Homo sapiens: one gene and its partner. The protein of the gene in region 2 purifies or fractionates together with the protein of the main gene of each other region. This does not show direct contact. Each region holds a gene or a part of one and is shown on either strand. Other genes may lie near its edges. The genes, in order: KCTD3 and MPPED2.

Evidence for each region.
Region 1: the proteins of MPPED2 (region 2) and KCTD3 fractionate together in Homo sapiens (co-fractionation; one large-scale study listed by BioGRID). This does not show direct contact.

Annotation. Positions count from the first base shown.
Region 1 is NC_000001.11:215,580,711-215,584,536, reverse strand, and holds part of KCTD3 (BTB/POZ domain-containing protein KCTD3), read right to left. Parts: intron 1-3,826. UniProt on the Homo sapiens protein: Accessory subunit of potassium/sodium hyperpolarization-activated cyclic nucleotide-gated channel 3 (HCN3) up-regulating its cell-surface expression and current density without affecting its voltage dependence and kinetics.
Region 2 is NC_000011.10:30,537,601-30,541,426, forward strand, and holds part of MPPED2 (metallophosphoesterase MPPED2), read right to left. Parts: exon of another isoform or gene 3,779-3,826; coding exon of another isoform or gene 3,678-3,778; intron 1-3,677. UniProt on the Homo sapiens protein: Displays low metallophosphoesterase activity (in vitro). May play a role in the development of the nervous system.

The DNA of each region.
Region 1 (3,826 bases), on a different chromosome or scaffold from region 2:
AAACTTACCCAACTCATACAGGTATTTGCAGGCAATGATAAACCCATGGCAAGGCTCAAGGCTTTAAGAAGTCTCATTTGAGATTCTTTATGGATCAAAGTTCTATCAAAGTCAATTTAAAAAGAGCCTATATAGGAACTAATTATTCTTGCTGCACTTTATACAAATAATCAGGCCAAGTATAATAAGACTAAAGCTTATTTTGCAAACAAATCAGTCCTACCATGATTTCTTTAGTAAAAATGAAAGACTGAAAATAGGAAAATTGTTTCAAAAACTATGGTATGCTTTTTATTAGATTTGTCTCATCAGTAGTTTTTGAGTTCTTTCTGCAATTTGGACTCATCCTGCTTATCCTTGTGGACCAAGCAGTGATCTGTGGCTGCTGTTCAGAAGAAACAAGAGGCATGGGTAACACAGAAATCTGGATCAGTATTCTAATTGTGGGCATGTATTGGAATTGGCTAGCACATCAGCTTGGTTCCAACTCCATATCAGCTTGGTTACAACAATTTCCCAGTTCATGAAAAGCCTTCTTATTTAGTTTACTTGGGATAATTTTACTTATTTTGCCTTGTTATTGTAGAATATACTGCTGTTGTTCTCTTTGTGTAGGAATGCAAGATAAGCTTACTCAGTGCTTTCTTAAATCGAACACTTATTAATTTTTCAGTCATCACTTTTTGTCAGAAATCAGAGTTCTCACCATACTGACAGTTTCTAACTGAGCTCTCCTCTACTCTGAATGCAGAAGACCCTAATAGGCAGAAATACCATCATCCCTATTCAGACTGCAGAAGTTACAGAAGATGAATCTTCCTCCCTCTGAAACCCTTAGGATTAAGAGTACCCTTGTAAAAGGGAAGGGGAAAACATGTCAGAGGTGTTCAAACCAGAGTTGAATGGGGACTGAGTAAAATAAGGCTGAGACCTGCTGGGCTGCATTCCCAGGAGGTTAGGCATTCTTAGTCACAGCGTAACAAGGAAGGTCAGCACAAGGTAAAGGTCACAAAGATCCCGCTGACAAAACAGGACGGAGTAAAGAAGCCAGCCAAAACTGAAACCAAGATGGCAACAAAAGTGACCTCTGGTCGTCCTCACTGCTCATTATACGCTAATTATAATGCATTATCATGCTAAAAGACACTCTCACCAGCCCCATGATAGTTTACAAATGACATCTAATGTCTGGAAGTTACCCTATATGGTCTAAAAAGGGGAGGAACATTCAGTTCTGGGAATTGCCTGCTCCTTTCTGAAACACTCATGAATAATCCACCCCTTATTTAGTATATAATCAAGAAATAACTGTAAGTATACTCAGTCAAGCAGCCCTCAGGGCTGCTCTGGCTATGGAGTAGCCATTCTTTTATTCCTTTACTTTCTTAATAAACTTGGATTCACTTAAAAAAAAAAACTATATAATCTCATCTTTTACAGACATATTACTTCTAAGTTGTTTTTCTCTATAGTAATTAGGGTATTACACAATAAAGAGATGTCAAAAAAGGATAAAAGAATCAGGACAGCATATTTAAAAATAACTATAACAACTACAGAATTTAACTCTTAATAAGATATGTGAATTTACCTGTTTTTTAAAAAATTACAAAGAAGGTACATATTTGCTCTATAACTTTCCATACAAGTAATACATTTAAAATATGTAGAACAAGGCCAGGCACAGTGGCTCACGCCTGGAATCCCAGCACTTTGGAAGGCTGAGGCGGGTGAATCACTTGAGATCAGGAGTTTGAAAACAGTCTGGCCAACATGGTGAAACCCCGTCTCTACTAAAAATACAAAAATTGGCCAGGTGTGGTGGTGCACACCTGTAGTCCCAGCTACTCAGGAGGCTGAGGTGGGAGAATTGCTTGAACCCAGGAGGCAGGTGTTGCAGTGACCCGAGATCACGCCACTGCACTCTAGCCTGGGTGACAGTGCAAGACTCTGTCTCAAAATCTCAAAAACAAAACAAAACAAAAAATATATAATAATAAATAAAACAAAATATAAAACAAGAATATGCTCTGTTATTTCACCTCTCCATCATCTTACTGCTGCCTAGTGAACCAACCCTCTGGTTAAGACAGCTATGCGAAGAATAGAGTTACGTCTAGTTATTTCCTACATGAAGACCTCAATAAAATACAGTAGAGAGGACATGCCCTGTGAGATTTTGAAACTTATTATGAACATACTTCACCTCAAGTTGTATGAGAATAGACATATGTCTTAAGGAAATGAGAGAACTGAAAAACAGATCCAAGTATATACACACACATAAAGCAAGATAAAATGGGCTATCAGATTCACTGACAAAGAATGATTTACGTAATAAATTGTCAGAACATAATTACCTACCCACTGAGAAGAAAATAAATCCTTAAATCTCATACCACATACAAAAAAGTAAACTCCACAAGGATTAAAGATCTAAAGTGGAATATAAGCCCCAAGGGGGCAGCAATTCACACAACTACTCTTCGTTAATAGAAGTAACACTGTCATAAACTCAGCAAGAAAAAGGGACATAAACATAAAACCTAACCATGTAGAAAATTAGTGAAGCTAGGAGAACATCATACAGGTCTTCACTGTACTACTCTTTTTTTAAAGGTTTTGTAACTTACTGATACAAAAACTTGAGGAAAAATAACTTGTAAAAAAGATTACACTTTTAAACAGTTTAAATATTTTTCTTTCTTTTGAAATCTTTTTATTGCCATTGTGTTGAATGATTTAACTATATGTGAGGAAATCCAAATATGTCCTCAATTGTCTTCCTTCGTCACTTTACATGAGTATATTGCTCTGAAATGTCAGACACTTGGTGAAAGCACAGAAAGATCGTGATCAATGCAAACGCAAAGACTGGAAAATGTAATAGCATCATCCTCCATACAATTATTACCCAGTGAGTTAAATTTTGCGTAATAATGTGGTGGTTCTGGAAAAGAGCAATCTTTAGTATTGTGTACAGTAACAAAACGGAAGTTATGCTGTTACACTTGGATCACTTATCATTTCACAATTCTTCTGGAATTCCTTATTGACAAAAATATGTACATAATATGTAAACAAGGGTCTACAAGTCACCTCAATTCAAATATATAAGATGATAAATTCAAAACAATGCTTCCTAAAAAAAAATTACTTTACCAAATTAGTCTTGCCTCATACAAAACCATCCCCAAAGAAATTATGCAAAAAACAATTTCCATGCTATTTCATAATTAAAATTACAAATCCACAAAACACTTTTTTTAAAAATTTGTTTATTTATTTATTGAGACAGAGTCTTGCTCTGTTGCGCAGGTTGGAGTACAATGGTGAGCTATCAGCTCACTGCAACCCCCACCTCCTGGGTTCAAGTGATTCTCCTGCCTCAGCCTCCCGAGTAGCTGGGATTACAGGCATGCATCACCACACCTGGCTAATTTTTGTATCTTCAGTAGAGATGGGGTTTCACCATGTTGGTCGGGCTGATCTTGAACTCCACCCATCTCGGCCTCCCAAAGTGCTGGGATTACAGGCGTGACCCACCGTGCCCAGCCAAAACACTCTTAAAACATAAAAGTCTGCACTTAATCATTACTACAAGGAAAATATAAACCTGAGATTACTGATATAAACAGCACTTACCAGACATGCCAAACCTTTCATAAATTCAGATTTTTAAAAAAAAAATACATCTGGGATTCTTTAAACTATATCTGTAAACTTTAGAAGACATTTTAGATATTTTTCAGCTTATTGTGACTATTTTTCTTAACCGAACTCAACAGTGATAAACAAATAGTTTATGTATCTTTGATTTTTCTGC
Region 2 (3,826 bases):
CTAACCTTTTTATTTCCTCTTATCTGTGTCGGAGAAGGAAAGTAAGAGGAGCAAGAAGGAAGGGAGGAAAGGAGGAGAGTAGGGAGGAAGGAATTGTGAACTGGTTATCACAGTGGGTCTAATTGGAAGCCCAAAAAGAAAGTTTAACTTCCGCAAAAAATTAATGGATTTTTTCTGTTAGAAAGGTTAGAAATTAATATGCTGTTACCACGTAGAAAATTCACTAATCCACTGTGATCTCATTAGTAACCTGGAAACCCTCCTCATTATAGCCGATGTTGCTTTTTTAGATGTAAAAATGTTTGATGTCTTCCTTTCCATCACTGAGACTTGGTTACACTCAGTCTCGGTGCTTACAATCTTAGCAACATTTCCTGTCTTTGAAAAGTAGTTTTCCCAGAGAATGAATGACTGTTCCCTGCTGGGGCTGACTGTGTCACTCTCTAAAAGTGATAAGCAATATCCCTATACCAATAGTTAAATGCTCACTAGAATAGGACTGTTTGCATTTATACTTAATGCACCAACATTTGAATGAAAATTTAATAAATCAGCCACTACATCTCTAAATATATGAATAAATGTAATATCTACCTATTCTAGTGTTTGTTTTCTAGCTTTCATTCTAATACTAACATACAGACACAGCCCCATTTCTCCTTTTCTGTAACTCAGCTAAGCTACAGACCCAGCTACTGCATCAAAATCCTTTGGGAGGTCATCTCAGCTTATCAGACAGACATCATTGTCATTATTTTGAATTAGACTGAAAGTAGCACAGATGTAAACCTCTTGTTGTAAATAGTTCCCTGTTCTATGAATCTACCCACTTTAAAGTAGCCAATCATCACATGGTACATAATTGGTTCCTCATCTTGACTTCATACTAGGCAATAAATTTTCTGACATTATGGGGAACACTAGGCAATTTCTGAATCACTTCAACCTCTTTCTCCACCTCCCACCTCCTTCAGAGAAACATTTAAATATCAAAGTCCAAGGAACAGCTGAGTAGAGGGGACAGTAAAAATGGGAAAAGTGTTTCTTCTCAGCTTTGAGCTGAAATAGTAAGTGTTTCTTCTCAGCTTTGAGTCCAAAGTAGACAGCAAGACAAGCAAAGAAGGCTCGCACATCTACACCACCACCATGATGCCATCAAAGAGAAATAATGTGTAGACACTAGGGAGAATGCACAGAAGATCGATTCAAGGCAGGGGATGGGGGAAGTGAGGCGTATACAGATGCAGACTTTATATAGATATCCTGACCCAGAGGCACTGAGAATCTTTGCTATCCATAGGAATAAGTACAAAGCAAGAGATGGTTTCAGAAGACAAGGCAGTGCAACATGCCAAAGCCACTCTGTGAGATGGTACAACAAATATCACCTGGAGCTCATAGGAAGAAGACATTTCCACCCACAGGCATAGAGTTGAAAATAAGACCTCTAGCAGAGTGGGCAAATTCCAGTGGAGATAATTAAAACTGAGACCACCCTCAGGAAACTACTCCTCCCAAATTGGGCATTTGATAAACACCTGGAAAAGTCAAGACAGCCAAACATTTTCACTATAAAAGTACATCTAAGGGAGACTCCAACTGCTACTGGAAGATCCTATCTGTTCATATTGTGTGAAGGCCCTCACACTATATTTTCATCCTTAGTTTACAACTTTACCACTTACTGTTTATGCTGCTGAGTTCTCAAATGACCTAACATTTCCCCTAAGGCATCGTGTCAAATATCCTAGCAAGTGAGTATCTTACCAAGGCAATCTAAACCCCAGAGCCAGATTCAAATATTAGAGTGATATTTGCACATATGTTTGAGTACACCTGGGGGACAACAAGGTGACATGGGAAGATGAGAAAAAAACATAGCAGCATAAAATCCCAAAGCAGGACTAAACCTTATGGGGCATCTCGTTCAATGTTTTACATGACATCTGAATCTCCTCTATCCCTTCCCTCTAGACGACATAATGTTTTGTGTTTGTTTGGTTTGTTGGTTGTTTTTTCTTTTGTTGTTTGTTTGTTTGAGACAGGATCTCGCTCTATCACCCAGGCTGGAGTGCAGTGGTACAATCATAGCCTACTATAGCCTCGACCTCCCAGGCTCAAGCAATCCTCCCACCGCAGCTTCCAGAGTAGCTGGGGTTATGGGCACAGGCAACCACACCCAGCTTATTTTTCTTGTTATTAGCAGTAGTACAGGTGAGGTCTTGTTATGTTTCCTGGGCTAGTCTTGAACTCCTGGGCTCAAGTAATCTTCCCACCTCAGCCTCCCAAAGTGCTGAGATTATAGGCGTGAGCCACCCCCACCTGGCTTCAATTTTCATTCTGAGGTTTCCAGAGAAGGAGAGCTCCTTCCTCCCCCTGTGCAACCCATCCTAGTTTTTTCATAGCTTTACTTGTTAGAAAGTTCTGTTTCAGATTCTGTACCTCTGAGAAAGCTGAGCATGGTCCAAAGACTTTGGCCTGGAACCTGAAGACTAAGTAACAATTTTAGGTCAGTCATTGGCTTTGGGCAACTTCCTTGATTTCTTTAAGCTTCACTTTTTCTCATCTGTAAAATGGGAATAATAATGCCTAATTTTCTGTGTTGCTATGTGGATGCAAACTATCAAGTACAGCATCTGACACACAACAAATGCTCCAAAAATAGAGTAGCAGAATAGCGTAAGGGTGAAGGATGTTTGGCTGCAGAGCCAGACTGCCTGGCTCTGAAATCCACTCCACAACTTATTAACATGCAACACCAAGCAAGGGGCTTAACCCTTGTGCCTTGGTTCCCTCATCAGTAAAACAGATATAAATATAGTACCTATCTCCTAAGATTGTTATGAGAATAAAAAATGATAATGTACTCAAAGCATTTAGAACAGTGTCTGACATGAAGTAGATACCCAATAAATGTTAGTATTTTTTTTTTACTAGTAACTAATAGTATTTTTACTACTATTAGTAGTAGTATCATTTAACTTCTATGACCTCCATCTCTTTTTCTGTTGTAGGGAGATAATAACATCTACCACTCACTCAGGGACTTTGTGAGAATTAAAAGAAATCACATACACAACACCCAGCATATACTGGGAGCGGAATCCATGGTCTTTAATATATTTATTTCCTGCCTGTCCCTCCTTCTTAATCCTAGTTCTGCACTCTGAAATAACAAGAAAATAAGAACCCAGTCCCTTTTCCATTGGACAGTTCTTCAACTATTTGAAAACAATCTATTATAATCCCCGGAAATCATCTCCACTCTAGTGGAGTAGCTACAGTTTCTTCCATTTTTCCTTGTGTGATAAGATGTCTAATGTCCTCAGAAGGCTATTTCCTCCCAGATACAATTTCACTGGGGAGAATCCCTCCCTTTGTAGTGTCAGAATTCATGGTCTGTGTGAATTCATGAACCAATGAGCTGTTCATCAAAGACAGATGCTAGCCCAGGCCATGGGGAGGTGGCACTGCTGAACAAATTGGCAGATTTTTCTAGAGAAGGCCTGAGCTATCATCTTAAACCATTTTCCAATGAACTTTCCAAGTTTTGTGCCAAGCCTCAAATCTTGTTCTTGAAGCTTGATCATCAAATGCTTACATATCTCACTGCATATTCAAACAAATAAACCATTCTTGTTTATTCAGTCTTGACATATTAGGGTTTTTTTACTCACAAAAAATATGATAATATTATGGCTTCCATTCTGATTCCTCTTCCGGCCATATTTATTATTGTTTTTCCAATAACAAATGAATACAGTATTGCAAACCTCATTGGTAGATCTTCAGAAAAGCTGTCATGTGGTTTGTTGTGACATGGATT